Regions from separate parts of the Homo sapiens genome. Here regions 1, 2, 3 and 5 are each linked to region 4. Evidence: fine-mapped expression QTL. A gene starts in region 4. Each other region holds a variant in brackets. All regions are shown on one strand. Distances are between the middles of the regions.

Region 1 (6,408 bases), 44 kb after region 4:
TCCCGGGGGAGGTGGCCGTGGCAGAACCCACTGCAGCTGAGGACTTGGGCACTGCCTTAATTCCCAAAACAGAAGGTTGTGCCAGGATTTGCAGAATTTGCTGGAGCTTGTGTGGTGTACTAGAGGAAAGAGCCCAGACCTACTTGCCTACCTTGGGGTCCACAGGTTTCCCCACTTAGAGAGTAAGGAGAAATACCTACCTTGAAAGGTTATTGGCTTGGGCTCCTATAAAAAATGTGAATAAGCTCTGAAGCATTATAGAAGCACTGGAATGACATGAGGAATGACATCACTGCAGTTGTTAATCAGCATTGCAGCTGTTAATCAGCATTGCAGTTGTTAATCAGCATTGCTGCTACTAAGTCAAACATGCCATGGAACACGTTTTTAACCAACATCTTCTGACTTAGGTCTTATTTTGAGACTGCTTCCCTGCACACCTCTGTTTTCCTGGCTGTGGGCATATGAGGCAGGGAAAGCTATGGGTCAGAATCAGGAAGACCTCATTGTCTTGATGAGGGGGCCTGAGGACAAGCCAGTCTAGCTTGATCTGATGGCCTAGCCCCTGGCCCAGCCCCTGCAGAGGCATCAGCGCTCGGGCCCATCCAGGGACGGAAGCCTGGCCAGTGTGGTCCCCCACATGCAGGAAGGTAGTGCTGAGATGCTGGCTTTCCTATCACACAGGCCATGGAGGGCGAAGTCAATGTGTGCTACAAGGAGCTGTGTGGCCCTTGGCCCAGCCACCAGCTGTTGACCAACCAGCTGCAGCGGCTGTGTGTGCTGCTGGATGTTTACCTGGAGACCGAGAGCCATGACGACAGTGTGGAGGGGCCCAAGGAATTTCCCCAGGAGAAGATGTGTCTGCGGCTCTTCAGGTGAGGAGAGGGTTGGGGCTCTGGTGACTTCTCATGGTGATGTGGGACAGAGATCAGAGCCAGATTTTCTGGGGAGAGCTTGCTTCTTCCTTCCTGAAACTTCCCCTGCAGCCGATGCCTATCACTCTGGTCCACCTGTTTTTCACTAACACCTCCTGAAGGTGTTAGTGCCAGGTCTGAGCCAAGAGGATTTGGCTGAACTTTATTTTCTATACTTTCTGTGGAAAACAATAGAGTTTGTTTGCTTTTTAGTGTCCAAATAAGCTTTTTAAACTGTGTGCATCCTCGCCTGTCCCCAGGGAGTCTGCTGTGGTCTTTCTAGGGTACTGTCCTGTCAGTGAGAATCACAGCTTAGGCAGTCAGGTGGCACAGAAGGAACCAGCTTCAAAGTAAAACAGATAGGAGTGCAGATCTCTGTTTTGCTGCTGACCTTAGAAGAGTCAGTTCTGCTTAGCTCTGAGCCCTCCTCCAGCTTTTTGTTTGTTTGTTTCCTTTTCTTTGAGACACGGTCTTACTCTCTTGCCCAGACTGGAGTGCAGCAGCATGATCATAGCCCACTGTAGCCTTGCAGTCTTGACCTCTGGAGCTCAAACGATCCTTCCGCCTCAGCCTCCCTAGTAGCTGGGACCACAGACATGCACCGCCACACGCAACTAATTTTTAAATTTTTTTGTAGAGATGGGGTTTCACCATATTAGCCAGGCTGGTCTCAAACTCCTAGGCTCAAGTGATCAGCTTGTCTCAGCCTCCCAAAGTGCTGGGATTACAGGCATGAGCCATTGTGCCTGACCCCTATTTTCTAAAGACAGAAATGGTGAAAGTAATACCTTCTAGCTCATGATGAAGCAGAAGTAATTCATATAAAGTCCTGGCACAGGACTGGGACTCGGAAAATGCCAGCAGTTCCTGACAGCTTGGTACTCAAGAGTGTCTGGGCTCATGGCACTTCCAGCTACTTTTCCTTTCTCTTTCATTTTGGGTCCTTTATTTCCCTTTCAGCCTCTAACTCATGTTCTTTTAAGAGTCAGTTTCAAAACTGCAGATTTCACTGCTCAGGCATCCCTTCCCTTCTGCATGAGGTTGGCGGGGAGCAGTGTTTGGGAAGGAAGAAGAGTGATAATCTGTTTCTAATCAGAACATCCCCCCTTGTTCCCTGTCAGTCTACACAGTGCCTTATCTCTCCCTCACCTTGTTCTCTGTTCCCTGTCAGTCTAAGCAGTGCCTTACCTCTCCCTCACCTTGTTCTCTGTTCCCTGTCAGTCTAAGCAGTGCCTTACCTCTCCCTCACCTTGTTCTCTGTTCCCTGTCAGTCTAAGCAGTGCCTTACCTCTCCCTCACCTTGTTCTCTGTTCCCTGTCAGTCTAAGCAGTGCCTTACCTCTCCCTTACCTTGTTCTCTGTTCCCTGTCAGTCTAAGCAGTGCCTTACCTCTCCCTCACCTTGTTCTCTGTTCCCTGTCAGTCTAAACAGTGCCTTACCTCTCCCTCACCTTGTTCTCAGACAGCCAGTTCTAGCCCCTAGAAGCAGTCCCAGCATCCTTTCACCTCATCTGACACCTCCACTGGCCTGGTTCATTATGTTATCTCATAATAACCAGTTCCAGCTCTGAGTGGCTGCTGGGAGGTGGAGCTGGTGGCCAGATGCTGGCACCTTCTAGGACTTGCTCTCTCCCTAGAGGGCTTGTGTGAGACCTCTGCTCTTCTCACCTGCCCAGCCCATTCTAGCACATTGCCAGGGTGGGAATTCTCACATGGCCAGCATTGATTTCCTCTTCTCCAGTGGTTCCCAAAGGACCCATTTCTTTTTCTTTTTTCTTTTTTTTTTTTTTTTTGAGACAGAGTCTCACTCTGTCGCCCAGGCTGGAGTGTAGTAGCATGATCTCGGCTCACTGCAACCTCCACCTCCCGGCCAAAGGACCCCATTCTTGAAGGGCTTTGTTGTGTCTCCAGGCTGAGCTCCTCTGTCAGCATTCTGGGAAGGTGCTCCTTCAGTGACTCAGATCCAGTTAACTCTATGGCCGGTAGATGTGAGAGGCAAGGCTCTCCGGCCAGGATGCAGAGTGCTGGCATGGGCAGCAAGAGACCTGAGGCCAGGAGTTCCACCAGCCTGGCCAACATGGCAAAACCTAAACTAAACCTCAACCTAAACCCGGGCGTGGTGGTGCATGCCTGTAATCCCAGCTACTTGGGAGGCTGAGGTACAAAAATCCTTTGAACCCGGGAAGCAGGGGTTGCAGTGAGCCGAGATCACGCCACTGCACTCCAGCCTGGGCGACACAGAGACTCCGTCTCAAAAAATAAAAAAAGGAACAATCCTAAAAAGTGAGGGTGCCTAAAGCTATGTCCCCGAAGTGCCACTGTCAGTGAGGGCCTTTCCAAGTTTGTGTTCACTCATTTGCAAGCACAAAAAGACATTTTTACAAAAATAGTATCGCACCTTATATGTTGTTCTGCCGTATGCTTTTCTCAACAACATTCTGTGTCATGTAACTCTGCCTCTTCTTTTTCCCTTGTGTGAATGAACCATAATTTATTTTATCAGCCTAGAAGGTGTGTTATTAACAACTCCGTTCTCCTATTTCTCTAGGGGTCCTAGCAGGATGAAGCCATTTAAATACAACCATCCTCAGGGATTCTTCAGCCATCGCTGATCTCCC[G/T]CGCAGACCGTTGTTTCCCCCAAGGCCTCACCCTGAGCACTGGGCTTCTGCTTTCTGCTCTGGCCCACATGTGACTCTTGATATTCTCCAAAGACACCAGCCAATTAAAAAGCGTCACCTGACCAGTGGCCTTTGTCTGTGGTTCCTGGCAAGGTGGCTTTGCAGTCTGGAAGGGCAGGTGGGAGCTGTGACACAGTGTGAAAAAGCATTTGTAGAGAGACTTTTTCTCAGCAGCCAATAAAAGCAGAGTGGAAAAAGATTCCAATTCTGCAGAGAGATGCTCACCTCTTGTCTACGCACACCCTATTTGTGCTTTGCGGGGTGAGGTCCTCATGATCTTGTATTTATTATCCCAAGTTCCTGCTGTTAAGAGGTGGTAGGAGAAGCCAAAGGCAGCAGAGCACAAAAAGCAAAACTCTTCCCTCCCCACCCGCTCTTCCCATTAGTCCTGTCAGGGTTGCCGATGGACAAATTGTCTCTGATCGTTGGATGTTATAAATGTCTGACAGTGCAGTGCAAACAGAAGACAAACTCAGTTGATCCTTGAACAACTCAGGGGTTAGGGGCACCAACACCCCCTGCCCTGCACAGTTGAAAAATCCGTGTATAACTTTTGACTCCCTAAAAACTTAACTAATAGCCTGCTGTTGACCAGTAGTATGCTATTAGTAGTTACTTACTGCTAACATAGTCAGTACATATTTTCAGTATATATTTTGTATCTTATACACTGTATTCTTACAATACAGTAAACTAGAGAAAAGAAAATGTTATAAGGAAAGTCACAAGGGGGCCTGAGTGCAGTGGCTCACGTCTGTAATCCCAGCACTTTGGGAGGCCAAGGCGGGTGGATCACTTGAGGTCAGGAGTTTGAGACCAGCCTGGCCGACATGGTGAAACCCTGTCTCTACTAAAAACATGGAAATTAGCCAAGCGTGGTGGCGCATGCCTGTAGTCCCAGTTACTCAGGAGGCTGAGGCAGAATTACTTGAACCCATGAGGCAGAGGTTGCAGTAAGCCAAGATCACGCTCCTGCGCTCCGGCTTGGGCGAGAGTGAGACTCCGTCTCAAAAATAAATAAATAAGAAAGCCATAAGGAAGAAAATATATATCTACTATTAAGTAGAAGTGGATCACCATAAAGGTCTTCACATACTGTCTCAGGGTTGAATAGTCTAAGGAAGAGGAGGGGTTGGTCTTGGTGTCTCAGGGATGGCAGAGGCAGAAAAAGTGGGGGAGGTGGAGGGGGAGGCAGGCACCACTGTTATTTTTATTGAACAAAATCTGTGCAGGGACTCATGACTGTAATCCTAGTACTTTGGAAAGCTAAGGCGGGAGGATCCCTTGAGGCCAGGAGTTCAGGTCCAGCCTGGGCAACGTAGTGAGAGACCCTGTATCTACAAAAAATTTAAAAATCAGCCAGGTGTGGTGGTATGCACCAATAGTCCCAGTTACTCAGAAGGCTGAGGTGGGCGGATGACTGGAGTCCAGGAGTTCAAGGTAGCAGTGAGCTATTCATCGTGCCTGTACTGTACTCCAGCCTGGGAAACAATGCGAGTCCCTATCTCTAAAAAATTTTAAAAAAAGAAATCTGCATATAATAGACCCACAGAGTCCAAACTATTGTTCAGAGATCAACTGTACTTCACAGAGAGTAATTCTAAGTCTTACAGGATTTCATGGAGATGGCGAGAGTGGTGTTGGAGAATCAATCACATACAGAGATACAGGACAGTGAGACCAGGTAACATTTGAGGAGAATATTTTTTTTTTATTGAGACAGGGTCTTGCTCTGTTGTCCAGGCTGGAGTGCAGTGGCACGAACACAGCTCACTGCCGCCTCAACCTCTCCTGGGTTCAAGTGATCCTCCTGCCTCAGCCTCCCAAGTAGCTGGGACCACAGGTGTGTGCCACCATTTCTGGCTAATTTTTAAATTTTTTGTAGAGGCGGGATCCCACTATTTTTCCCAGGCTGGTCTCAAACTCCTGGGCTCAAATGATCCTCCCACCTCGGCCTCCCAAAGTGCTAGGATTATAGGCATGAGCCACCACACCCGGCCTGAGTAGAGTCTTTAAGGTAATGACAAAAGTGCCTCAAAATATAATTATTTGATTAAGAGAAGTCTTGGGAAGATAGGTAACAACCTTTAAAATGTTCATAAAATTACATCCTTTGTAATACTCCTGCAAGTCAAAGTAAAGGATGGCATAGACTATTCTTGGACAGTTTTGTCAAAAAGTGTATCTTGACCCCACCATCAGTACTCCATTCTTCATTTTAAAAAATAAGATGGGCTGGGCACAGTGGCTTACGCCTTTAATATCAGTACTTTGGGAGGCTGGTGGGCGGATCACCTGAGATCAGGAGTTCAAGACCAGCCTGGCCAACATGGTGAAACCCCGTCTCTACTAAAAATACAAAAATTAGCTGGGCATGGTGGTGCGCGCCTGTAATCCCAGCCACTCGGGAGGCTGAGGCAGGAGAATTGCTTGAATCCCCGAGGCGGAGGTTGCACTGAGCCGAGATGGTGCCACTGCACCATCTGGACAACAGAGCAAGACTCCGTCTTGGAAAAAAAAAAAAAGATGTAGAAATGTAAAAATATTTGAGAATTATTACATAGTTGCAGATATAGTTTGCTAACTCCAAGAGGAAACACATTTTATTTTTTGTGATTGTCCTGATGAAACTTTATCCCCCCACAACATGCTGTTAAGCTTGGTTCCCATCATAAGCATATTCCCCCTAAGTGGACTTTTACTGATTTTCCATGGATAATGCAGACCTCCAGTATAAAAGCTATTCCTCCAGGTCTCTCTGCCGACCACTGAGTATCCCAGGGATAAGGATTTTAAGAGTAAGAGCTAAGTAATAAAT
Region 2 (5,381 bases), 45 kb before region 4:
CTCGGGAGGCTGAGGCAGGAGAATGGCGTGAACCCGGGAGGTGGAGCTTGCAGTGAGCCGAGATCGCGCCACTGCACTCCAGCCTGGGCAACAGAGCGAGACTCCGTCTCAAAAAAAAAAAAAAAAAAAAAAGAATAAATACGGCCAGGCACAGTGGCTCACACTTCTAATCCCAGCAATTTGGGAGGCCGAGGTGGGTGGATCACCTGAGGTCAGGAGTTCAAGACCAGCCTGGACAACATGGTGAAACTCCCGTCTCTACTAAAAATACAAAAACTTAGCCTGGCTTGGTGCTGGGTGCCTGTAATCCCAGCTAGTCGGGAGGCTGAGGCAGGAGAATCTCTTAAACCCAGGAAGCAGAGGTTGCAGTGAGCCGAGATCGCGTCATTGCACTCTAGCCTGGGCAACAAGAGTGAAAATCCATCTCAAAACAAAAAATAATAATAAATAAATAAACACAGATGATAATTATATGCACCAGATAAGGGTCTGAGGGGGAATTCAGATAGAGCTTATTATGATCTGGCACACAGACCCCAGTTAATAAATATCTGTTGAATGAATGAGTGACGGTCATAAAGAAATACTTACGGTGTCAACTATGGTCTGGACAATATTAGTAGCTACCATATTTTAAATGCTTACCATATACAGCACTCTGCAAAGTGCTTTGCATGCTTTGTTTATCTTGATCTTCTTTTTTTTTTTTTTGACATGGAGTCTTGCACTGTAGCCCAAGCTATGGTGCAGTGGCACGATCTCGGCTCACTGCAACCTCTGCCTCTGGGGCCCAAGCAATTCTCCTGCCTCAGCCTCCAGAGTAGGTGGGACTACAGGTGCGCCACCACGCCCAGATAATTTTTTGTATTTTAGTAGAGACGGGGTTTCACCATGTTGCCCAGGCTGGTCTGGAACTCCTGACCTCAGGTGATCCACCCGCCTCAGCTTCCCAAAGTGCTGGGATTACAGACATGAGCCACCGCGCCCAGACTATTTTGACCTTTTTCAAAACCACATTTGGTAGGTGTAATATCCTCAGTTTATATCTGAGGAAACTGAATAAGGCTGAAAAGAGGTAATTTACCCACAGCCATGATTGGTAGAGCTGCAATTTGCATCTAGGAGTGGTTTCATCCATATCTCTCCTGATTTACACTTTGCTCTTCCAGATCAGTGTTTCTCAGATAGTGGTCCCTGCCCTACAGGGGACATTTGGCAATGTCTGGAGACTTTTTTGGTTGTCACAACTGGGGGATGTTCCTGGCCTCTAAGGGTAAAAGCCAATGATGGCGTTCAACATTCCACAATGCGCAGGACAACTCCCCACAATAAAGAATTATCCAGGTCAAAGTGTCAATAGTGCCAAGATAAAGAAACTGTGCTCTAGAGCAGAGATTTTTGTTTGTTTCTGAGACAAGGTCTCGCTCTGTCGCCCAGGCTGCAGTGCAGTGGCAAGATCATGGCTCAGCCTAGACCTTCACTGGATCAAGTGATCCCTCCGCCTCAGCCTCCCGCGTAGCTGGGACTGAGAGGTGAGGTCATGCTGGCAGCCCTCGCAGCCCTCGCTCGCTCTCGGTGCCTCCTCGGCCTTGGCACCCACTCTGGCCGCGCTTGAGGAGCCCTTCAGCCCGCCGCTGCACTGTGGGAGTCCCTTTCTGGGCTGGCCACGGCCGGAACCGGCTCCCTCAGCTTGCGGGGAGGTGTAGAGGCAGAGGCACGGGCAAGAACTGGGGCTGCGCGCGGCGCTTGCGGGCCAGCGCGAATTGCGGGTGGGCGTGGGCTCAGCGGGCCCCGCACTTAGAGCGGCCGGCCCGCCGGCAAGCCCCGGGCAGTGAGGGGCTTAGCACCTGGGCCACCAGCTGCTGTGCTCGATTTCTCGCCGGTCTTAGCTGCCCCTCCGCGGAGAAGGGCTTGGGACCTGCAGCCCGCCATGCCTGAACCTCTCTGCCACCGCCGTGGGCTCCTGCGCAGCCGGAGCCTCCCCGACGAGCGCCGCTCCCTGCTCCAGGGCGCCCAGTCCCATCGACCGTCCGACGGCTGAGGAGTGCAGGCGCATGGCGGGGGACTGGCAGGCAGCCCCATCTGCGGCCACGGTGCAGAATCCACTGGGTGAAGCCAGCTGGGCTCCTGAGTCTGGTGGGGACTTGGAGAACCTTTATGTCTAGCCAAGGGATTGTAAATACACCAATCAGCACTCTGTATCTAGCTCAAGGTTTGTAAGCACACCAATCAGCACTCTGTGTCCAGCTCAGGGTTTGTGAATGCACCACTCCATACTCTGTTATCTAGCTAGTCTGGTGGGGACTTGGAGAATCTTTATGTCTAGCTAAGGGGAATGCACAAATCGGCACTCTGTATCTAGCTCAAGGTTTGTAAATGCACCAATCATCCCTCTATGTCTAGCTCAGGGTTTGTAAATACACCAATAGACACTCTGTATCTAGCTAATCTAGTGGGGAGGTGGAGAACTTTCGTGTCTAGCTCAGGGATTGTAAACGCACCAATCAGCACCCTGTCAAAATGGACCAATCAGCTCTCTGTAAAACAGACCAATCGGCTGTCTGTAAAATGGACCAATCAGCAGGATGTGGGTGGGGCCAGATAAGAAAATAAAAGCAGGCTGCCGGTGCTAGCAGTGATAACCTGTGCAGCTTGTTTCATATATTGTGGGAGCTTTGTTTGTTTGCTCCTTGTTTGGGTCCACAGTGCTTTTATGAGCTGTAATATTACCTGCAAAGGTCTGCAGCTTAAGTCCTGAAGCCAGCGAGACTACGAACCCACCGGGAGAAAGGAACAACTCCAGAAGCGCCGCCTTAAGAGCTGTAACAGTCACTGCGGAAGTGTGGAGTTTCACTTCTGAGCCGGTGACCATGAACCCACCAGAAGGAAGAAACGCGGAACACATCAGAACATTAGAAGGAACAAACTTTGGACACGTCGCCTTTAAGAACTGTGACACTCAACATGAGGGT[C/T]CTCGGCTTCATTCTTGAAGTCAGTGAGACTGAGAACCCACCAATCCCGGACACAGGACTACAGGCATGCACCGTCACGCAACGTTAATTTTTTTTTTTTGGTAGAGACAGTTTTGTGATGTTGCCCAGGCTGGTCTCCGGGGTTCAAGCCATTTTTCTGTCTCAGCCTCCCAAAGTGCTGGAATTACAGATGCGAGCCACTGTGCTTGGCCTGTATGTTACTTTAAGCCACTAAATGTATAGCAATTTATTGCACAGCAATAGAAAGCAGCCAGAAAGAAAAACATTTTTTGGTAAAGAAATGGGAACTCACTCTCACCCAAGCTGGAGTGCTGCTGTGACACGATCATAGCTAATTGTGGCTCTGAGTTCCTAGGGTCAAGAGATCCTTGCACCTCAGCCTCCCAATTAGCGGGGGCTAAAGGCACCACCATGCCATGCTAATTTTTAAAAAATTTTTTGTAGAGACAAGGATCTTGCTATGTTGCCCAGGCTGGTCTCAAACTCCTGGCCTCAAGCGATCCTCCCAGCTTGGCATTCGAAAGTGCTGGGGTTACAGGTATGAGTCACCCAGCTCACCTCGCCCGACCAAGAAAAACAACTGTTGGGGCTGAGCGCAGTGGCTCACTCCTGTAATCCCAGTATTTTGAGAGGCGGAGGCGGGTGGATCACCAGATCGGGAGTTTGAGAGCAGCCTGACCAACATGGTGAGAACCTGTGTCTTAAAAAAATACAAAAGTTAGCTGAGCGCAGTGGTGCGTGCTTATAGTCCCAGCTACTGGGGTGGCTGAGGCAGGAGAATCGCTTGAACCCAGGAAGCAGAAGTTGCAGTGAGCTGAGATCGCGCCACTGCACCCCAGCCTGGATGACAGAGCGAGATTCCGTCTCAAAAAAAAAAAAAAAATTTAACTCGCATAATCCACTGACCCACTGCTATCGCATACTACTTATTGTTTTATGATTTGTTAATTTTATTTTTTTTGAGACGGAGTCTTAGCTGGGCTGGAGTGCAGTGGCGCAATCTTGGCTCACTGCAACCTCCTCCTCCTGGGTTCAAGCAGTTCTCTGCCTCAGCCTCCCGAGTAGCTGAGATTATAGGTGCCCGCCACCACGCCCGGCTAATTTTTGTGTTTTAGTAGAGACGGGGTTTCACCATCTTGGCCTGGTTGGTCTTGAACTCAGGACCTTGTGATTCACCCACCTCGGCCTCCCAAAGTGCTGGGATTACAGGCGTGAGCCACCACGCCTGGCCATTTGTTAATTTTTCATTCATTAATATCCTCACCCGTCACTAAATATTTTATAATATAATTTTCTAAGAAATGTACAGGACTTTATGTATGGATGTAAATTTTAAGTTTTTTTCTCTTACACACATTGTAACTCAAGTAATCAAGTTTCCTTCCTGCTGGTAAGAAGCTCAGAGCCAAATTGTATGTCTGCCTCTGGCAATTGTACTTGACCTTGCCTTATTTTTGGCTTTATTTTATTCTTGCTGCTCTTGCTTACTTTACAGTGAATTTTTCCCTACCCACTTACTATTTAATTGTTGCACTAGCTGTATTTCTTTTTACACAGTTATAGATCTCTTATTTAAGGTTTTGTTATTGTTTATTCTTCTTGGGACAAGACCTTACATAACAAATTTGTTTTTTGAGATGGAGTCTTGGTCTGTCACCCAGGCTGGAGTGCAGTGGCGCGATCTCGGCTCACTGCAACCTCCGCCTCCCAGGTTCAAGCAATTCTGTCTCAGCCTCCAGAGTAGCTGGGATTACAGGTGCCTGCCACCACGCATGGCTAATTTTTGTATTTTTAGTAGAGACAGGATTTCACCATGTTGACCAGGCTAGTCTCGAACTCCTGACCTCAAGTGATCCGCCTGCTTCGGCCTCCCAAAGTGCTGGGATTACAGGCGTGAGCTACCGCGCCCCACCAACAAAGTATTTTTTAATGTGTATAATTTATAAGCTTTTTATTTTGACCTAATATTGGACTTAAAACCTGCAAAAATAGTAGAGTTTCTCTATATCCTTCACTTAGCATCCTCTAATGTTAACATTTTAGTTAATCGTAATACAATGATCAAAATCAAGAAATTAACATTGAGGCCTGGTGCCTGGCTCATGCCTGTAACTCTTAACACTTTGGGAGGTCAAGGTGGGTGGATTGCCTGAACTCAGGAGTTGATGAAGAGCCTGGCCAATGTGACAAAACCTCATCTCTACTAAAAATATAAATTAGCTGGGCATGGCGGTGCATGGATGTAGTCTCAGCTACTCACTGCCAGCTCCACCTCCCTGGATTCAAGGATTCTTGTGCCTCAGCCCTCCCTTGTAGCTGGGACTACAGGCGTGTGCCACCACACCCAGCTAATTTTTGTATTTTCAGTAGAGAAGGGTTTTGCCATGT
Region 3 (6,408 bases), 22 kb after region 4:
CCTATTTTTGAACTCTATACAAAGAGAATCATAGTATATACTCCTATGTCTGGCTTCTTTTGTTCAGCAGTATGTTTCTAAGATTCATCTGTGCTATTGTGAGTACAAGAGTTTGTTTTCATTGATGTTTAGTAATTGGTTGTTTCCGGTTTAGGGCCATTTCAATAATGCTGCTATGAGCATTCTTATACATGTGTTTTGGCATACATGTGTACATCTGTCTGTTGAATATATACCCAGGAATGAAATTCTAGGTCATACAGTATGTTATACATATATTTAGCTTTTGTAGACACTGAAACAGTTTTCTAAACTGGTTGTACCGATTTACAGAAATTCCCACCAGCACCATATGCAAGTTCTAATTGTTTTACATCCTTGTCAACACTTTATACTGTCAGTCTCCTTAATTTTGGCTACTCTGGAGGGTATCTCATTATAGTTTTAATTTTTATTTCCCTGAGGACTAGTGATGTTGAACACAGCACATTTTGCCTTTTGGATAACCTCTTGTGATGGGTCTAGGCAAGTCTTTTGCCTGTTTTCTGTTGGGTTGCCTGGAGATGAGTTTTTTCCCAGGTCTTCCCCATTCTGTAACCTCCTGCCTTTTCACTTTGCTAATGGTATCTTTTAATGAGTGCATGTTCCTAATTTTACTAATTATTCTTTTCCTTTATGGTTAGTACTTTTTTTGTGTCTTGTTTAAGAAATCTTTCTATTTAAATCTGTTGTCATCCTGGAAGTGATTTTGTTAGTTAAGGGTAAAGATTCATTTTTTCTTTCCACATAGGTATTTAGCTGACCATTTATTGAAGACATTCTCTTTCCACTGCTCTGTAGTGCCACTTTTGTTACAAATCAAATGTCTTTGTACATGTGGATATGTGTATAATCTCTGTGTCCATCCTTGCACAGTATCACACTGTCTTATTTACTGTGGCTTTATCAGAAGTCTCGATGCACAGTTCCAACCTATTTCTTCAGGATTGTCTTGGTTATTCTTGGCCCTTTGCATTTACATACAAGTTTCAGAATCAGGTTGTCTGTTTTCACCTGCTGGGATTTTGACAGGGATTGCATTGAATCTGCAGACCACTTTAGAATAAATTGTTACCTGGACAATATTTGAGTCTTCCAGGCCATTGACATTCACATGTATCCACTTATTTTAGACTTTTCATTTCTCAGGTTTTTGTGTAGAGGCTTATATGCCTTTCATTTGTTTATTTTATTTTGTTTTATTTTGAGGCAGGGTCTTGCTCTCTTGCCCAGGCTGGAGTGCAGTGGTACAATCTTGGCTCACTGCAACCTCCGTCTCCCAGGTTCAAGTAATTCTTCTGCCTCAGCCTCTGGAGTAGCTGGGATTACAGGTGCGTGCCCCCACACTTGGCCAATTTTTGTATTTATAGCAGAGATTGGGTTTCACCATGTTGGCCAGGCTGGTCTCAAACTCCTGACCTCAGGTGATCCACCTGCCTCGGCCTCCCAAAGTGCTGGGATTACAGGCATGAGCCACTGCACCCAGCCTGCTTGTTTATTATTTTTTGTTTGTTTTTTGAGACAGAGTTTTGCTCTTGTTGCCCAGGCTGGAGTGCAATGGCATGATCTCGGCTCACCGCAACCTCCACTTCCTGGATTCAAGTGATGCTCCTGCCTCAGCCTCCCGAGTAGCTGGGATTACAGGCATATGCCACCACGCCCAGCTAATTTTGTATTTTTTTTAGTAGAGACGGGGTTCTCTGTGTCCGTCAGGCTGGTCTTGATCTCCCGACCTCAGGTGATCCATCTGCCTCAGCCTCCCAAAGTGCTGAGATTACAGGCGTGAGCCACTATGCCCGGCCTGTTTATTCTTATTTGATGTTTTATTGATGGTATTGAAATGGCATCTTTTTATAATTTCTTTTTTTAAATTGATTTTTATTTTTTGTGGAAATGGCATCTCGCTAAGTTACCCAGGCTGCTCTTGAACTCCTGGCCTCAAGTGATCCTCCTGCCTCAGCCTCCCAAAGTGCTGGGACTATGGGCATGAGCCAGGGTGCCCTGACAGTAGGTAAAATAAAACAATTTTATTTCCTTACTGTTTGTTGCTAGTATAAAGAAATATAATTTTGTTTACGTTGAGCTTTTATCCACCTATTAGTTCTATTAGTTTATCATGTATCACTTTTATAAATAATGATTTACGGTCACTAAGTAGCCACTTTTTCCTGTGTGGACTGGCTAAAAAAGGAAGAACAAAAATCTGTCTCTTGTGTGCAGGCTTCCCTTCCGGTGCAGGAGTACCTGTTTATGCCATTCGACCAGGCTCACAAGCAGTATGAGACAGCCAGACACCTGCCGCCTCCCCTCTATGTCCTCTTTGTTCAGGCCACTGCGTATGGGCAGGCCTGTGGTGAGTATGGGGCCTGGGTGAGGACAAGGGGCTATGGGAGCAGCAGCTGTGGCCGAGTGAATCAGTTGGAAGCAGTACCTGCTCAGGAAATTTCTCAGTCCTGCCCGAAGCCCTCAGGTGACAGAAGCTTTCTTCCCTCTGCATTGCCCAGCATGGCTGCTCTGACCAGCTGGCCTAAGGCTGGATTAACCTGATGGGTATTTCACAATGGGTGGCTTTGA[G/A]TCATTCGTGAGCCTGGCTGGACAGCTCTTGGGTGCAGAACCCAGGCAGCCTGTCTGGGCTCCCAGGTGCTCACCCCATCAAGGCACGCTTGGCAGTTAGATCAGTGCCTCTTGCTCTGCTTCAGGGTGGGGGTGCCTGGTGAATACAGGTCTCAGCCAGCTCTCCCAGGCTTTCACCATGCCTTGAATCAGGCTGCATGTCTTTGTTGTGAATTTCCAGGTTAGATGATATGTCCTCATTAAGCTTGAGGGCAGCCTGTGACTCTGCTAGGGTTTTGAGAAAATTTTGGAGACTCTGCCTTTTGCCCTAATGCAGCTTTCACCCAGCACCTACATTTTCTCCCCCACCCCACCCCACCTCATCAGACAGACATACACCGCACCAGTGCTTGCTTCTCCTCCCACCTTGGGCACCAACACATTACTGTCTCTTCTTGTGTCTTCCTCGTCCTTCTGGTCCTCCCCTCCCCTTTGTTCTCCCTCCTGTTTCCATCATCAGCTCATATGAAATCCTCCCAGCCCCCTAGACAGGGTGAGTAATTTTCTTTTCTTTTATGTTTAAAATCGGCCTGTTCCATTCTGATGTTCTTGTAGAATGCTAATATTAAATGGCTGAAAAAAATAGTCTGTTGTTTGCCAGTGCTTGATGGGAGCAACTAGTTGCTTGGGGTGAAGGGTGGTGATTCACATAGGGTTGCCATAGATAAGGCAGTGGTCAGCCACTTGGGGGAAGTTTGCCATCCCTCCTTAGTGTGGCTAGGCAAACCGTTTCAGGCTCTTGGGACCATATGTACCCTTAAGAATGGAGTTGGACGGTGGTGGCCTGTCTGACCTCACAACGCTAGACCCTCAGAGGGGGTCTCAAGACATCACTCAATGAGGTGTCATACCTGGTGTATGCAACAGGCTGTTAGCTCATGTGCTGGAGAGGCCAAGCTTAAGTTGAACAGACCTGGTCTTGAATCCTGGTTTATCAGCCTTATAGCTGTGATGTCTAGCTTCTCTGAGCCTTAAGTTTCTCATCTATAAATGGCTATAATGTATTACTCCTGTAGGGTTGTTGTGAGTATTAAAAAAAATTTTTTTTTTTGAGATGGAGTCTGGCTCTGTTGCCCAGGCTGGAGTGCAGTGGCATGATCTTGGCTCACTGCAACCTCTGCTTCCCAGGTTCAAGCAATTCTCCCTGCCTCAGCCTCCCAAGTAGCTGGGATTACAGGCACCCACCACCGTGCCTGGCTAATTTTTATATATTTAGTAGAGACAGAGTTTCACCATGTTGGCCAGGCTGGTCTCGAACTCCTGATCTCAGGTGATCCACTCACCTTGGCCTCCCAACCAGACATGAGCCACCACACCCAGCCTAAAAATTAATTTTTAATAATTTTATAATTAAAATTACAAGCATCAGCTCATTCAGTCCCCACCACTAATGGGGCAGCTACTGTTTTTCTTTTTTCTTTTTTTTTTGAGACAGAGTCTCACTCTGTTGCCCAGGCTGCAGTGCAGTAGCATGATCTTGGTTCACAGTAACCTCCACCTCCTGGATTCAAGCAATTCTCCTGTCTCAGCCTCCCAAGTAGATGGGGTTACAGGCACATGCCACCACACACAGCTAATTTTTGTATTTTTAGTACAGACGGGATTTTGCCATGTTGGCCAGGCTGGTCTCTGAACTCCTGACCTCAGGTGATCCACCTGCCTCGGCCTCCCAAAGTGCTGAGATTACAGGTGTGAGCCACTGCACCCGGCAGCTACTATTTTTCAAGTCCCCTTTTCATAGATACAGAAACTGAGGCTCAGACAGTGACATAACTTTCCAGGTCATGTGTTTGAGAATTGGTTAGGCAGGGACTCAGGTCTGGAACTGGACTGCAAGATCCAAGTTCCTATTCACTGTCCTACTGCCTCCCAGTTAAGTGAGACAATGGCAGCCATGTGCTTGGTATAGTGTAGAATAGAGAATAAGCACTTAGGTGAGAGTCATTGTTTCTGGGATGTGGACAGGTGTGGATTTCTGGGTGAGAACCTCTAAGACAACTGGCAGAGGAGTTCCATGTGGCTTTAGGCCCTCAGTTTGAATTTCTGTGCTTTGGTGTGCACCAAAAAAGAGAGGCATTCACTGCTAGTTTCAGGTGATGCTGGTTTAGGAATTTGTACTTAAGTTCTCTGTTCTCAGTAAATGACGGAAAAAAAAGCTTAAGTGTCCCACCTTGTTTCCCTTCATCTGGAGCAAGGACTTTTGCCCTTCCACCCTTAGTCAGCAAGGAGCTGGGCAGAGGTGGGAGAAATGCAGCCCCAGAGCTGGCCTACTCACACTGCTTAGCAGCTTTCCTCAGCAGCTTTCCTAACAGACTTCTTCTTGCCCCCCAGATAAGACGTTATCTGTGGCAATCGAAGGCAGTGTGGATGAAGCCAAGGCTCTGTTCAAACCTCCAGAGGACTCCCAAGGTAATGTGGTGGTTGGGATTCGTCCCCCAGGGACACCAGGTCACCATCCAAGGGCAGTCCTGGTCTTTGGAGAACTAGCTGGACTAGTTCTGTGTAGCAGGAAGCTTGACTTGAATGTCTTAGCACCCTGGAGTAGACAGGAAAGAGAGCTCACTTCCCGGAGTCACAAGGTGCGGCCCGTGGATTTCAGCCCTGCCACTCACTAGCTGACTGACCCCGAGGAAGGTATTTAATATTTCAGAGCCTCAGTTTATTCCTTTGTGAAAACAGATAGTAACACCTCATGTAGGATTGTTATGTGGATTAAATAAGGTAATGCACATACAGCCTTTAGCATAATTCTCAGCACATAGTACCCCCTCAAGTTATGCATGCTTCTACTACTATTATTATTATTTGTGTTACTATTATTACCACAGCCACCACCACCATCACAAGGAGGGGCTTGTGTTCCATCTAAATGACATCAAAAAGCCCTTTGAAAAAAATGAGTTATACGTCATTCTTCTTTTTTCTTTTTTCATCACCATGTTTTGTATACTGAATAAGAAGCAGCAAGTTAATTTATTATTTATTACAGAGAAACTTATTTACAAAAGACAGAGTCAGGGCCCCTTTATGCCATGTGGGTTGGAGTGCTTTAGGGAGCATTTGGAGCCCCCTCACCTCTAGCTGCCTTCTCTCTGTGGCTGCAGATGACGAGAGTGACTCAGATGCCGAGGAGGAGCAGACTACGGTGAGAACCATTTCCTCTTGTGGGGGCATCAAGCAGCTGCATGCACTGGGGCATGCTTGTTCGCAGGTGCCGTCCTCCCTAGAAGCAGAAGAGGTGTGAAAGAAGGTGCTGCTGGGAGGGGAGTCTGACAACCCAGCTAGCTGAAGCAGCAGGTGCCAGGCAGTAGGGCTGAGGCCTGGCTGGTTGGGAGAGGGAAGGGGAGATTGCTATGACTGATGCTCATCAGCTTGGCACTTTCCTTTGTCCAGAAGCGCCGGAGACCCACACTGGGGGTTCAGTTGGACGACAAACGCAAGGAGATGCTGAAGAGGCACCCACTGTCTGTCATGCTCGACCTGAAGTGCAAAGGTCTGGTTGCACTCACCTTGTTTAAGGGATCTGTAGCACCTAAGAGTTCACCCAGCTGCAGGTGCAGAGGGTCCGGGAGCCAAACACCCATTTGCCCAACAAAGGATTCCCATTTCATATTGCTTTGTTTTTCCTTATTGTTTTGCATGGACTTTGTTTCTTTTTGTTAAATCATAACCGTAACAACATAGCAACAAAACTCCAGTCACATAAGGCAGAAGCTTGAGAAAACTATACCTCTTTCTGAATCTAGCAAGTCAAAT
Region 4 (6,360 bases):
TCAGGCAACCCCGACAGACAGTGGCACTCCTGGTCCTGCTGTCTTGGTTTTGTCTTGGCTCTGGGAGGACTCTGAGGGGCAGTGCTCAGTTCAGACAAGGGGGAACTGAAGGCTGACAAGTTCTGAGGATTACAGCTCTGCCCAGGCCCTTTCTACTTTCCCTGCCTGCCTCCCTCCCCCTGCTAGAAGTAGTTTCTGATTTCCCTGAATGAAAGATAGTGATCTTTTAGGCCTTCATTTATCTTCTAAAATTCCTCATCTCAAGGCCACCAGTCCCCAGTTATCACCCTTGGAAATCCTCTGTTTAGCTTAGTTGCACAAAAGGTAGTATGTCCAGTGGCTAGAGGTGGGGTGGGAAGAGAGGAGGCCAGGCCAGGCCCTCAGGAATTCCCTGGTTTCCACTGGGCCACCCACTTGCTGGACAGTCTGAGCCAAGTCCCTCCTGCTGGAGAAAAGCCTGGAACTGCCAAAACAAAAAAACAAATACAAACAAACCTCGTCACCACGGTCAGGAGGAGGTTCAGACATTCTGCCCAGAGGGGCTGGGGAAAGGGATGGGAGCCAGGAAAGATTTAGGGGCAGGAGACAGACACGTAACAGGAACTCGGAAGGTAGAACTTAGAATTCAGAACTTGGGTTTCAATTGTAGAATTTGGAATCTGGAATACAGAATTGGGAAGAAGAACAGAGATGACAAAAGACCACTTGAAGAGAGGTTCCTAATACTAGACAGATGGAGAGTGGCTTGGCTGTTTCCCCCTGCATATTGGGGTTGAAAACTTAAATGTGTAGTTCCAGTCCTTCTATGCAGAGTCTCTCCTGCCCTCCCTCCTTCCTGCAGGCAAATATACAAGCTAGACCCTGTTCCCTCACCCTGTATCCTGTCTCCCCTAATTGACATTCTATCAGCCCAACCCTCATTCTGCAGGGCCACCTGGTGTGTGGAGGTGGCGGGAGGGGTCAGTGACTCTGGGGGTCTCCTCAGTGACCCCCATACCTCATCATGAACCCTTGGGTAGCTTGATTCTGCCTACCATCCAGGAAAACTTGTGCTGGAATTGCTGATGGAAACAATTAAATATTTACTATAAATCAGTGTCTTTTCTTCATCTGCAAGGAACTTTAGCAGGTGCCTGAGGCAGGGCACAGTAGAGCTGGTGGGCTTAGTCCCACATGGCAGATCTACCCTCCTGGAGGGTACTGTGTTCTTGAGCTATTCTCAACAGTCAGTACTGGTTGGGTGCAGTGGCTCACGCCTGTAATCCCAGCATTTTGGAAGTCCGAGGTGGGCAGATCACTTGAGTGAGGTCAGGAGTTCAAGACCAGCCTGGGCAACATGGTGAAACCCTGTCTCTACTAAAAATACAAAAATTAGCTGGGCATGGTGGTGCATGCCTGTAATCCCAGCTACTTAGGAGGCTGAGGCAGGAGAATCCTTTAAACCCTGGAGTCGGAGTTTGCAGTGAGCGGGGATTGCGCCACTGCACTTCAGCCTGGGTGAGAGAGCAAAACTCTGTCTCAAATAAAAATAAAAATAAAAAAGAGCCAGTATTTTCCTCCTTGCTCCTGGGAAGGAGAAGGAACTGGCCCCGTACAACCAGGGATTCAGGACACGTGTTACTAGCTCCAGATGAGGATTTACACGAAAAAATCCTGGGCCTTGTTTGTACAGTTCATGCCAGGGGTAGGAAATACCTGAAGCTTTCAAATACTGCGTTAGAGTTGTGACTCTGTCCTGGGCAAGTCAGGCCTAAAATGGAGAAACTGGTGATGCACTCCTCAAAAAGCCAAGTGTAAAATGAGGTTAATGCCCTCCCTGACTTGTTGCCTTCACTGGCGTGGCATATTATGGTAAAAATAATAATTAAGAAGTAAGGTTATGCAGGCAAATCCTCTAGCGCCGAAATCTTCCCCGCCGCGCTACCAGGTTCTTTCGTGTTATCTTGGACATAACACAACATTAATTCAACTACTCGGTGGAGCGCCCACTAGCTGCTGGACACTCTCTTAGGCCCTGGGCACAGTGAACGAGAAGCATGTGTCTTTGTTTTTACAGTCTCACCACGCCACCACCTCCCTCGGGGGCCTCCGCGCTGAGCTTCCGGCCTCTACGCCTCGCTTCCGGTCGGCCGCCCCTTCCTTACTTCCGGTTCTCTATGGTGCGCGGGCAAGCTTTGCTCCGCCTCCGGCAGTGGCTTACTCCCGGTGCCAGGTTCTTGGAGCTGTGAGGTGAGGAGGGGACAAGGGCAGTGGGGCTGGGAGATGGGGCGGGGCTGGGCGCTCCGGGACTGAGGTGCTGATCGCCCAAAGGGCGCCCCTGGGCTGGGGTCTGACCCGGCTTCTCCTCCCTCACTACCCGCGGTCCCCGGCCTCTCGGCGCTGCGCTGTTACCTCATCCGAAAAGTGTTCGCTGCAGCATCCTCAGGCTTCACGTTGGAGCCTCTTGATTGTGGTAATGTAGCCTGATGGGGGTGGGGGTGGTGGTGATGGTAACAGCTCACATATATCGTGCTCTTCGGTGTGCCAGGCACTCTACTGTGTTGCCAAAGTCAGGATTTCCCACACTTAAGCCTTTCAGGTCCGGTCTTTGTAGGCTTTGCCAGATCAACTTACCACCTCTACTACCGTTTATTAAAAATTTGTTTGTTTGTTTGTTTTAGTATTTATTGATAATTCTTGGGTGTTTCTCGCAGAGGGGATTTGGCAGGGTCATAGGACAATAGTGGAGGGAAGGTCAGCAGATAAACAAGTGAACAAAGGTCTCTGGTTTTCCTAGGCAGAGGACCCTGCAGCCTTCCGCAGTGTTTGTGTCCCTGGGTACTTGAGATTAGGGAGTGGTGATGACTCTTAAGGAGCATGCTGCCTTCAAGCTTCTGTTTAACAAAGCACATCTTGCCCCGCCCTTAATCCATTTAACCCTGAGTGGACACAGCACATGTTTCAGAGAGCACGGGGTTGGGGGTAAGGCTATAGACCAACAGCATCCCAAGGCAGAAGAATTTCTCTCAGTACAGAACAAAATGGAGTCTCCCTTGTCCACCTCTCTCCACACAGACACAGCAACAATCCGATTTCTCTATCTTTTCCCCACATTTCCCCCCTCTCTACTAGACAAAACCGCCATCGTCATCATGGCCCGTTCTCAATGAGCTGTTGGGTACACCTCCCAGACGGGGTGGCGGCCAGGCAGAGGGGCTCCTCACCTCCCAGAAGGGGCGGCCGGGCAGAGGCGCCCCCCACCTCCCGGACGGGGTGGCGGCCAGGCGGAGGCGCCCCCCTACCCCCGACCCGACGGGGCGGCTGGCCGGGCTGGGGCTGGCCCCCACCTCCCCCCCGGACGGGGCGGCTGGCCGGGCGGGGGCTGCCCCCCACCTCCCGGACGGGGCGGCTGCTGGGTGGAGGGGCTCCTCACCTCTCAGACGGGGCAGCCGGGCAGAGACGCTCCTCACCTCCCAGACGGGGTCGCAGCCGGGCAGAGGTGCTCCTCACATCCCAGACGGGGCGGCGGGGCAGAGGTGCTCCCCACATCTGAGATGATGGGCGGCCGGGCAGAGACACTCCTCACTTCCTAGACGGGATGGGGTCCGGGAAGAGGTGCTCCTCACTTCCCAGACTGGGCAGCCGGGCAGAGGGGCTCCTCACATCCCAGATGATGGGCAGCCGGGCAGAGACGCTCCTCACTTCCCAGACGGGGTGGCGGCCGGGCAGAGGCTGCAATCTTGGCACTTTGGGAGGCCAAGGCAGGCGGCTGGGAGGTGGAGGTTGTAGCGAGCCGAGATCACGCCACTGCACTCCAGCCTGGGCACCATTGAGCACTGAGTGAACGAGACTCCGTCTGCAATCCTGGCACCTCGGGAGGCCGAGGCTGGCCGATCACTCGCGGTCAGGAGCTGGAGACCAGCCTGGCCAACACAGCGAAACCCCGTCTCCACCAAAAAATACGAAAACCAGTCAGGCGTGGCGGCGCGCGCCTGCAATTGCAGGCACTCGGCAGGCTGAGGCAGGAGAATCAGGCAGAGAGGTTCCAGTGAGCCGAGATGGCCGCAGTACAGTCCAGCTTCGGCTCGGCATCAGAGGGAGACCGTGGAGAGAGGGGGAGGGGGGAGGGGGAGGGGTTTACTAAAAATTTTTAATCCAGTCCAAATTTTTTTTTTGCAACGGGATCTCTGTTGTCAAGACTGAGTGCAGTGGCGCGATCATAGCTCACTGCAGCCTGGAACTTCTGGGCTCAAGCCATCCTCCCACCCTAGCCTCCAGAGTAGCTTGGGACCACAGGTGTGCACCGCCATACTAGGCTAATTTTAAAATGTTTTCTAAAGATGGGGTCTCGCTCTGTTGCCCACTCTGGTCTTGAACGCCTGGGCTCAAGCGATTCTCTCACCTCTGCTTGCCTTGGTTTCCCAAAGTGTTGGGATTACAGGTGTGAGCCATGGTGTTGGGCCCAGTCACTTTTTTTGTTGTTGTTGAGACTGAATCTCGCTCTGTTGCCCAGGCTGGAGTGAAGTGGCTGCGATCTCGGCTCATTGCAACCTCTGCTCCCTGGGTTCAAGTGATTCTCCTACCTCAGCCTCCTGAGTAGCTGAGATTACAGGCGCCCGCCTCCACTCCCGGCTAATTTTTGTATTTGTGGTACTGACGGGGTTTCACCATGTTGGCCAGGCTGGTCTCAAACTCCTGACCTCAGGTGATCCACCCGCCTCAGCCTCCCAAAGTGCTGGGATTACAGGCCTGAGCCACTGCGCCCAGCCAAGTCACTTTTTAAACTCAAATTTACTTTGAGAGAAAACTTGAAATCTCTCCACCAGAAATGGAAAGCTGCTTTCACTTGTTTTATGTAGAAGGTAAAAATTAATATAGTTAATATAATGCAACTAGATCATTGTTAACAAACTCTGGCTAGATTTTGTTGTTTAAGGCTGTGGGATAGAGTTCTTTTGTTACAAAGGAACATTGGCATTCATAGATGTTAAAGACAAACTAGGGAACTGAGATGTTCTCCTTGAAGCAATCAGAAGTTTCAAAATAAGAATTGAAAAGGGATTAACTTTCTCCTTAGGTGTTCAGCATTATTTAAGATCACCTATGCATCATCTGAAGCCACAGTCCCAGGTCATCTTCATCACCTTCCCCAGTGGAATGCCTCCTGTGTTAAAGCCCACAACAACCCCTGTGGTAGGGACTGTTATTCTCATTTGATTTGTGAGGAATCAGACCCAGAGAAAAGTGAAGTGACTCGTCCGGGGACTCATAGCCATGAAAGAGTAGAATGGAGATTCCAGTTCAGGGCTCTCTGACTTTTACCGTGACAAACTATTGGCTCCCTCAAGTCGGGGATGTGGAAGCTTCAGTGAGTGATGATTGTGCCACTGCACTCCAGCTTGGGTGACAGAGCAAGAGGGATTAGGGTAAAGGGGACAGTGCTGCCCACCTCAGGAGGCTGTGGTGAGGCAACAAGGGAGGATGCTTTGTGACTGTAGAGCCCCATGAAATGTAGGTTCTATACTTTAAATTCTAGGATCAACCTGGGAGTCAATGGCATCACTAGATGAGAGGCTGGCAGGACTAGGAGGCATAAAAGTGTAGTTAAGAGCACCAGTATGGCATTGATTGGATAGATCCGGATTTTGGCCTACTAGTCATGTGACTCGCAATTACTTGCAAGTAATTCCCCTTGCGAGCCTCAGTTTTGTCATCTGTGAAATGGTGGTAGTTCTTAGCTGAAAAGTTTGTTATAAGGAGCAAATGAGAACATACCCATAAAGTAGTTAGATCAAGGCCCAGCACACAGTGATCACAGTAGTATTGGGAGTGTCTTTAAATGCCAGACCGAGGAGTTTGGATACTAATTTATGGAGCACTCTGCCAGGCTCAGGGGGAAGAGGGTAGAGCTCACAATCTAGGTGGGAAGACAGGTAAATGATTCATAGAGATAAATTCCCTAATAGTGTACCCAAAGTAGCCAAAAGAGGGCTTTGGGGAGACCTGACAGGCTTCCTAGAGCAGATGAGCATTGCTTAGTCTTGAAGGATATAGGGAGGAAAAGGAAGATCTTTGCAAGCAGGGGAAAAGACATGGAGTGTTTGGGGAACTGGGATTGCAGGGTGCAGTTGCAGCTAGGAGCAGAGGTTGGGGACAGTGGGAAGGTCGGTAGGAATAGGAATGCAAGAAATGAAGTTGGGAAGGTAGGTTGGGGACAAACCATCAAGGGTCTTTATGACAAGTCAGGGAATATGGATATTCAGTGCATTATGAAGAGCCAGCAAAGGTTTTGAAACAGGAGAGGCATTAATTAGGTCGGTCTTTTTTAAGAAAGAGAATTTAGACAGTATTGTTGGGCAAGACTGTTAGAGTAGTCCTGGA
Region 5 (6,296 bases), 320 kb after region 4:
AAGCCAAGGACGCACGTCAGGGCCTGGAGGAGGGGCCGGGCCTGTGGCCTTGGGAGTTCAGGACTCACTTCCTGCCGCCGGGTCTTTTGCGTCCCAGTGTTCCGAGAACTGGATTCCAGCCAGTTCCAAGGCTTGGGAGGGCCTGATGCCCGGTGGCTCTAAGCACAGGTTCTGGAGGCAGCCTGGGTTTGAAGCCGTTCCCCTACGCCCAGGCTGTGGGACCCTGGCAAGCCACCTTCCCTCTCTGGTCCTCAGTGTTCCTCACCTGTAACCACAGGAGGACAACGGCGCCTGCTGGAGGACTGGGTCACATGTGGCCTATCGTGAGCAGGGCTGGCACACAGAAGGCACGTGGCAGATGGTAGCGGGCACTGTGCTGATGGCTACTCCACCCCCACCTCCACCTGCTGGGATCCCAGGGGGACTCACCATGCTGGGAGATCCGGGCATGGGGTGGCCCAACAGGGGCTGGGGGCCCAGGGGGGCCAGGAGGCCCTGGTGGCCCAGGAGGTCCCCTCTCTCCAGGGGTGCCCACAGCTCCAGCCCGGCCAGGGCTCCCTGGGGGGCCCTGTGGACCTGCAATGGAATCACACGGATTTGTGGGTATACAGGAGGCAAGGAGGCCCAGGGTGGCCTTGAGCGACAGGACAAGGCAGCCTGGAGCAGTGGGCATGAGAGAGGGCCCCGGAGTCCACAGGCCTAGGCTGCCTGGTAGTCTAACAGGGGGATGAGCACAGCACCTAGTTCTCCACCTCGTCCAGGCTGAGTCTTCCTTCCTTGGGGCTCCCAAACCCCCAAAACCCCTCATAGAAACCCTGGTCACATGGGGCAAGCATTGCTGCTTCTCCTCTGCCCAGCCCTGCTCCCAGCAGCATGGAAGCTCCAGAAGGGCAGGGACATGTCTGACCCCACCCAGTGCCCAGCTCAGAGCCTGATAAGTGTAGGTGCCCAGGGAATGTGGGTCAGTGAACATAAGAGAGGACTTCATGGAGCCCAGGCGTGGGCAGGGCACTCCGTGGTGGGGTGCTGAGTGAAGAGGCAAGTAGATGAAAGGGCCCAGGTCATCCTGGCCATGTCAGGAGCAGGGAAGGGCCCACCTGGTGGAGGGGATGGCCAGAGGAGCTGTGGGGCAGCATTGCGGGCACTCACCTGGTGGGCCTCTCATCCCCATTGGGCCCCGACTGCCGGCATCTCCCTTGGGGCCGGTGGGCCCGGGAAGCCCCCAAGCACCGACTTGGTCTGGGGGGTAAAGCATATCAGACTGGCAGCTCCACATCTGCTCTTGACCCCCACCCTGGCCCCAGCCCCCCAACCAGCATCTACCATTTCGGGGAAGCAGCGGGACCCTCACACTCTCTATGGCTCCTGGCAGCCCTGGGGTGGGGGGGGTAGGCAGAGGTCAGTGTCCCTGCTGGGCCTGGAGGAGGGAGGCTCATCCAGAATCCCCACTCCCAGCTCCCCCCGACCTCCAGGCAGGGTCTGCTGGGGCTGCTTGGTCTCCAGGGACTGCAGCATTCAGGAGTCCCAGGAGACGGTCCTCTTAGGCGGGTCTAAGAAACGGGAAATGGGAAGACTGAGGCCCACTAGAGGGTTAAGTTGGGAGTCAGCGACAGGGTGGGGACCAGAATCCCACTTCCCCGATTCCCAACCCACTGCTCATTCCCACAGGGGAGTCTGAGTCTGACACTCACCCTGGAGGCCTCCATCTCCGGGGCTGCCCTGGGCAGGAGGGGGACCCCAGAGCGGGGCAGGGTCCTCAGGGGTAGCTGGTGTTGGAGGTACTGGCTGCTCTATGACAGTCAGCATGGTCATCTGAAGAGGAAGACAGGGACGGGGTGGGTACCAGGGTCTCACTAGGACCCCTCCCTATTTTTTTTGAGATGGAGTTTTGCTCTGTTGCCCAGGCTAGAATGCAGTAGTACTATGACGGCTCATGCAGCCTCAACCACCCGGGCTTAAGCGATCCTTCTGCCTCAGCCTTCCAAGTAGCTGGGACCACAGGGATGCACCACCACACATGGCAAATTTAAAAAAAAATTATTTGTAGAGACGAGGTCTCGCTATGTTGCCCAGGCTGGTCTTGAACTCCTGGGCTCAAGCAATCATCTTGCCTCAGCCTCCCAAAGTGTTGGGATTACAGGCATGAGCCAGGGTCTCACCACGGACAGGCCAGCCAAGGGGCCTGGTGTGGGAGGCAGGAGGCACATGGCCAGCAGGGCCCAGCTTGGAGTGGAGCCCCAGGCTCGCAGGGGCACCGAACTTCATCAGAAGTGACAGTGTTTTTCAAAGCACACAATTCATAACACGCATTATGGAAAAGTCACTGACACCATCATTGCCATCAAAGTTGAGCTTTGTGACTGTCGCGGTGCTTGCTGGGCCATGTGCTTTTTCTCTATGGTTATCCAAATAAGAAGCTTGTCTTGATTTCTTAAAGCACCACAGGGTATGGCTGGAAGAGTTTCACTTAGTTTGTTTTTTTGTTTTTTTTTTTTCCAAGATGGAGAGCCTTGCTCTGTTGCCCAGGCTGGAGTGTAGTGGCACGATCTCGGCTCACTGCAACCTCCGCCTCCCGGGTTCAAGTGATTCTCCTGCCTCAGCCTCCAGAGTAACTGGGATTACAGTCATGCGCCACCACACCTAGCTAATTTTTGTATTTTTAGTAGAGATGGGGTTTGACCACATTGGCCAGGCTGGTCTCAAACTCCTGACCTGAAGTGATCTGCTTATCTCAGCCTCCCAAAGTGTTGGGATTACAGGCGTGAGCCACCACTCCCGGCCTTTCACTAAATTTGGAAGGAAGTTTGGAAGAGTCTGACATGAAATAGAAACCTGGAGGTGTACACAAAGTCCACTTTTGGGCCCATGGTGAGG[A/G]AGACTCTGGGAAGCTGGAAGTGTCCCCTCAGCTGCTGAGGACCAACGAAAGGCCAGATGACCACAGATCAGGGGCTCAGGGATCGTGGGGGCCTGTCCAGAGAAAAGCTGAAACTCTCTGGCAGATCCTGAACCAGGAATTCCCATCAAGATGTGGGACTGAGTTGCCTCTTACATGGGCTTCTCCTGGGAGGGAGCTCAGGGAACTGCTCCTGGAACCCCGTGCCTTGTAACTCAGGTGCCAGCACACGCTATTTGGAAGCTTGGTTTTCCCATTTGATAAATCAGGGGCATCTTCTTTTTTTTTTTTTTTTGAGGTGGAGTTTTGCTCTTGTTGCCCAGGCTGGAGTGCAATGGCGTGATCTTGGCTCACCGCAACCTCCGCCTCCCAGGTTCAAGCAATTCTCCTGCCTCGGCCTCCCTAGTAGCTGAGATTACAGGCATGCGCCACCAAGCCTGGCTAATTTTGTACTTTTAGTAGAGATGGGGTTTCTCCATGTTGGTCAGGCTGGTCTCGAACTCCTGACCTCATGTGATCCGCCCGCCTCAGCTTCCCAAAGTGCTGGGATTACAGGCATGAGCCACCGCGCCCAGCGGCATCTTCTTTTTTTTAATTTTAGAGACAGGGTCTAGCTCTGCCGTCCAGGCTAGAGTGCAGTGGTGCTATCACGACTCACTGCAGCCTTGTCCGTCTGAGCTCAAGTGATCCTCCTGCCTCAGCCTCTTAAGCAGCTGGGACTGTGTGCCAGCTGTGTGCCACTAAGCCTAGCTAATTTTTTGTAGAGATGGAGTCTTGCTATGTTGCCCAGGCTGGTCTCGGGCTCCAGGCCTCAAGCAATCCTCCTGCTTCGGCCTTCCAAAGTGCTGGGATTACAGGTGTGAGCCACCATGCCCAGCCTAGAGAAATCTTTTCATATTAGGGAAGGGAAGTATTGTAAATGGCTGCTGAATGCCCCATAGAATGAATTCTCCACAATTATACAACCATGCCTTCTTTTGCCTGGTTTTCAAATTTCTCTATTGGTAAACATTTTTGCATCTGATAATCTCATTAAGTTCCCAGGCTGGGCACAATGGCTCACATCTGTAATCCCAACACTCCTGGAGGCTGAGGCAGGAGGATTCCTTGAGGCCAAGAGTTCAGGACCAGTTTAGGAAACATAGCAAGACCCCAGCTCTAAAAAAAGTTTTTTAAACTAGCCAGGTGTGGTGGCACATGTCCGTAATGCCAGCTACTCAGGAGGTTGGGGCAGGAGGATAGCTTGAGCCCAGGAATTGGAGGCTGCAGTGAGCTCCAACTCACGGCAGATTGCAATGCCTGCACTCCAGCCTGGGTGACAGAGCAAGACCCTGTTTCTGAATCAAAACAAAACGAACAAACAAAAGATAAATTTCCAGAGAAGGGAATGATGGAGCAAAGAATGGCACTAAAGTGTATGCATGTCTGTGTGTTTAGAAAATCTGGAAGAAAGGATGCTTAAGTGTCGACAGTTGCATTCTTTGGGGGCATGGGCAACTGCTGTGAATGGTTTGCTGGCTGTTTTTTCACATTTCTGAATTTTTCATGTTTCTAAATTTAGAATGTTGTACTTTTTAATTTAAATTAATTAATTAATTACTTTTTTTTTTCTTGAGACGGAGTCTCGCTCTGTCGTCCAGGGTGGAGAGCAGTGGTGCAATCTCGGCTCACTGCAACCTCTGCCTCCTGGGTTCAAGCAATTCTCTGCCTCAGCCTCCCAAGTAGCTGGGATTACAGGTACCTGCCACCACACTCGGCTCATTTTTTTTTTTTTTTTTTTTTGAGATGGAGTTTCGTTCTTGTTGCCCAGGCTGGAGTGCAATGGCACAATCTCGGCTCACTGCAACCTCTGCCTCCCGGGTTCAAGCGATTCTCCTGCCTCAGCCTCCCGAGTAGCTGGGATTACAGGCATGCGCCACCATGCCCGGCTAATTTTTGTATTTTTAGTAGAGATGGGGTTTCTCCAAGTTGGTCAGGCTGGTCTTGAACTCTTGACCTCAGGTGATCCGCCCTCCTTGACCTCCCAAAGTGCTGTGATTACAGGCGTGAGCCACGGCACTCGGCCCCGGCTAATTTTTTGTATTTTTAGTAAAGATGAGGTTTCACCATCTTAGCCAGGCTGGTCTTGAACTCCTGACCTTGTGATCCACCCGGCTCGGCCTCTCAAATGCTGAGATTACAGGCATGAGCCACTGCGCCTGGCCTAATTTGTTTTTTTTTTTTTTTTTTTTTTTGAGACAGAGTCTCGCTCTGTTACCCAGGCTGGAATACAGTGGCGCAATCTTGGCTCACTACAACCTCCACCTCCCAGGTTCAAGTGATCCTCAAGCCTCAGCCTCCTTTGTAGCTGGGATTATGGGTGTGTGCCACCATGCCAGGCTAATTTTTGTATTTTTAAAAGAGACAGGGTTATGCCATGTTGGCCAGAATGGTCTCGAACTCTTGGCCTCAAGCAATCCACCTGCCTCGGCCTCCTAAAGTATGGAGATTACAGGTGTGAGCCGCTGCGCCAAGCAGTACTTTTTAATTTAAAAAAAAAAAAAAGTTTTATGGCAGCGCAGCGGCTCACACCTGTAATCCCAGCACTTTGGGAGGCCAAGACAGTGAATTGCTTGAGCTTAGAAGTTCAAGACCAGCCTGGGCAACATGGAGAAACCCCATCTCTACCAAAAATTTAAAAATTAGCTGGATGTGGTATTGTTCACCTATGGTCCCAGCTACTCAGGAGGCTGAGGTGGGAGGATCATTTGAGCCCAGGAGGCATAGGTTGCAGTGAGCTGAGATCTCGCCACTGCACTCCAGCCTGGGCAACAGAGGAAGACCCTGTTTCAAACAAAACAAAACAAAAAATACACAACATTTTATCTTGAAATAATTTGAGATGTGTGATAGATGTTTTGTTTTTGAAACCAGGAAGATAGTATTATGGATGGGGGTTGGGGGGATAGAGAAAGGGGATGGGGCAGGGGCAGGCAGGAGATCCTACCAGGATCTCTGGGCAGTGTCTATGCTGATCTGGTGGGGATGGTGATGGAGCCCCATGGGAGGGAGCTCACAGGCCTCCTGGAGGAAGAACAGGCCAGGCTGGCTGTGACTTGCGCTTCACATATACAGTTTTCCCTGAGTGGATGCTAGTATCCCCTCCGCTTGACAGGTGGGAAAACTGAGGCACGACCTGTGAGCAGGCTTCCTAGGGAGGGACACTGGAGGAGACCATGACATGCCTGACAGGGGATGCTGCTCGCCGAGTCAGTTCAGAGCTGCCCTGTGGGTTCACTGAGGGTGCGAGCATGGGGTGCGGGGAAGGAGGTGGGGAGGGTGGGATGGTGGTTGCCTGGACTGGCCTGTGGCAGGGAACAACCACCCAGGAGGGAGCTGCTCACCCACCTTGGCCTCCAGCACC

The links. PIP is the estimated chance that this variant, and not a neighbour inherited with it, causes the effect.
Region 1: its variant is fine-mapped to the expression of THOC5 in whole blood (INTERVAL, PIP 0.95).
Region 2: its variant is fine-mapped to the expression of THOC5 in whole blood (TOPMed, PIP above 0.99).
Region 3: its variant is fine-mapped to the expression of THOC5 in subcutaneous fat (GTEx, PIP above 0.99). The same link has a PIP of 0.9 or more in aorta, breast, thyroid and tibial artery.
Region 5: its variant is fine-mapped to the expression of THOC5 in whole blood (TOPMed, PIP 0.94).

Annotation. Positions count from the first base shown.
Region 1 is chr22:29,505,573-29,511,980 of GRCh38, reverse strand. It overlaps THOC5 (THO complex subunit 5), which reads left to right. Exons shown (of 20, transcript NM_003678.5): 19 at 685-875; 20 at 3,461-6,102. The coding sequence ends at 3,524. Among named protein-coding and RNA genes, the nearest start is that of NEFH, 29 kb to the right of the region's middle. The variant G/T (reference allele first, on the strand shown) is at 3,531.
Region 2 is chr22:29,594,732-29,600,112 of GRCh38, reverse strand. No RefSeq gene overlaps it. Among named protein-coding and RNA genes, the nearest start is that of NF2, 6.2 kb to the left of the region's middle. The variant C/T (reference allele first, on the strand shown) is at 2,973.
Region 3 is chr22:29,527,815-29,534,222 of GRCh38, reverse strand. It overlaps THOC5 (THO complex subunit 5), which reads left to right. Exons shown (of 20, transcript NM_003678.5): 8 at 2,260-2,392; 9 at 4,984-5,061; 10 at 5,757-5,797; 11 at 6,046-6,145. Among named protein-coding and RNA genes, the nearest start is that of THOC5, 23 kb to the left of the region's middle. The variant G/A (reference allele first, on the strand shown) is at 2,614.
Region 4 is chr22:29,549,540-29,555,899 of GRCh38, reverse strand. It overlaps THOC5 (THO complex subunit 5), which reads left to right and starts at 2,143. Exons shown (of 20, transcript NM_003678.5): 1 at 2,143-2,229. NIPSNAP1 (nipsnap homolog 1) reads left to right here. Exons shown (of 10, transcript NM_003634.4): 10 at 1-1,092. RefSeq lists enhancers at 1,773-1,842, 1,226-1,923, 3,321-4,020 and a silencer at 2,243-2,432.
Region 5 is chr22:29,226,536-29,232,831 of GRCh38, reverse strand. EMID1 (EMI domain containing 1) reads right to left here. Exons shown (of 15, transcript NM_133455.4): 5 at 6,281-6,296; 6 at 1,692-1,812; 7 at 1,150-1,239; 8 at 430-576. Among named protein-coding and RNA genes, the nearest start is that of EMID1, 24 kb to the right of the region's middle. The variant A/G (reference allele first, on the strand shown) is at 2,875.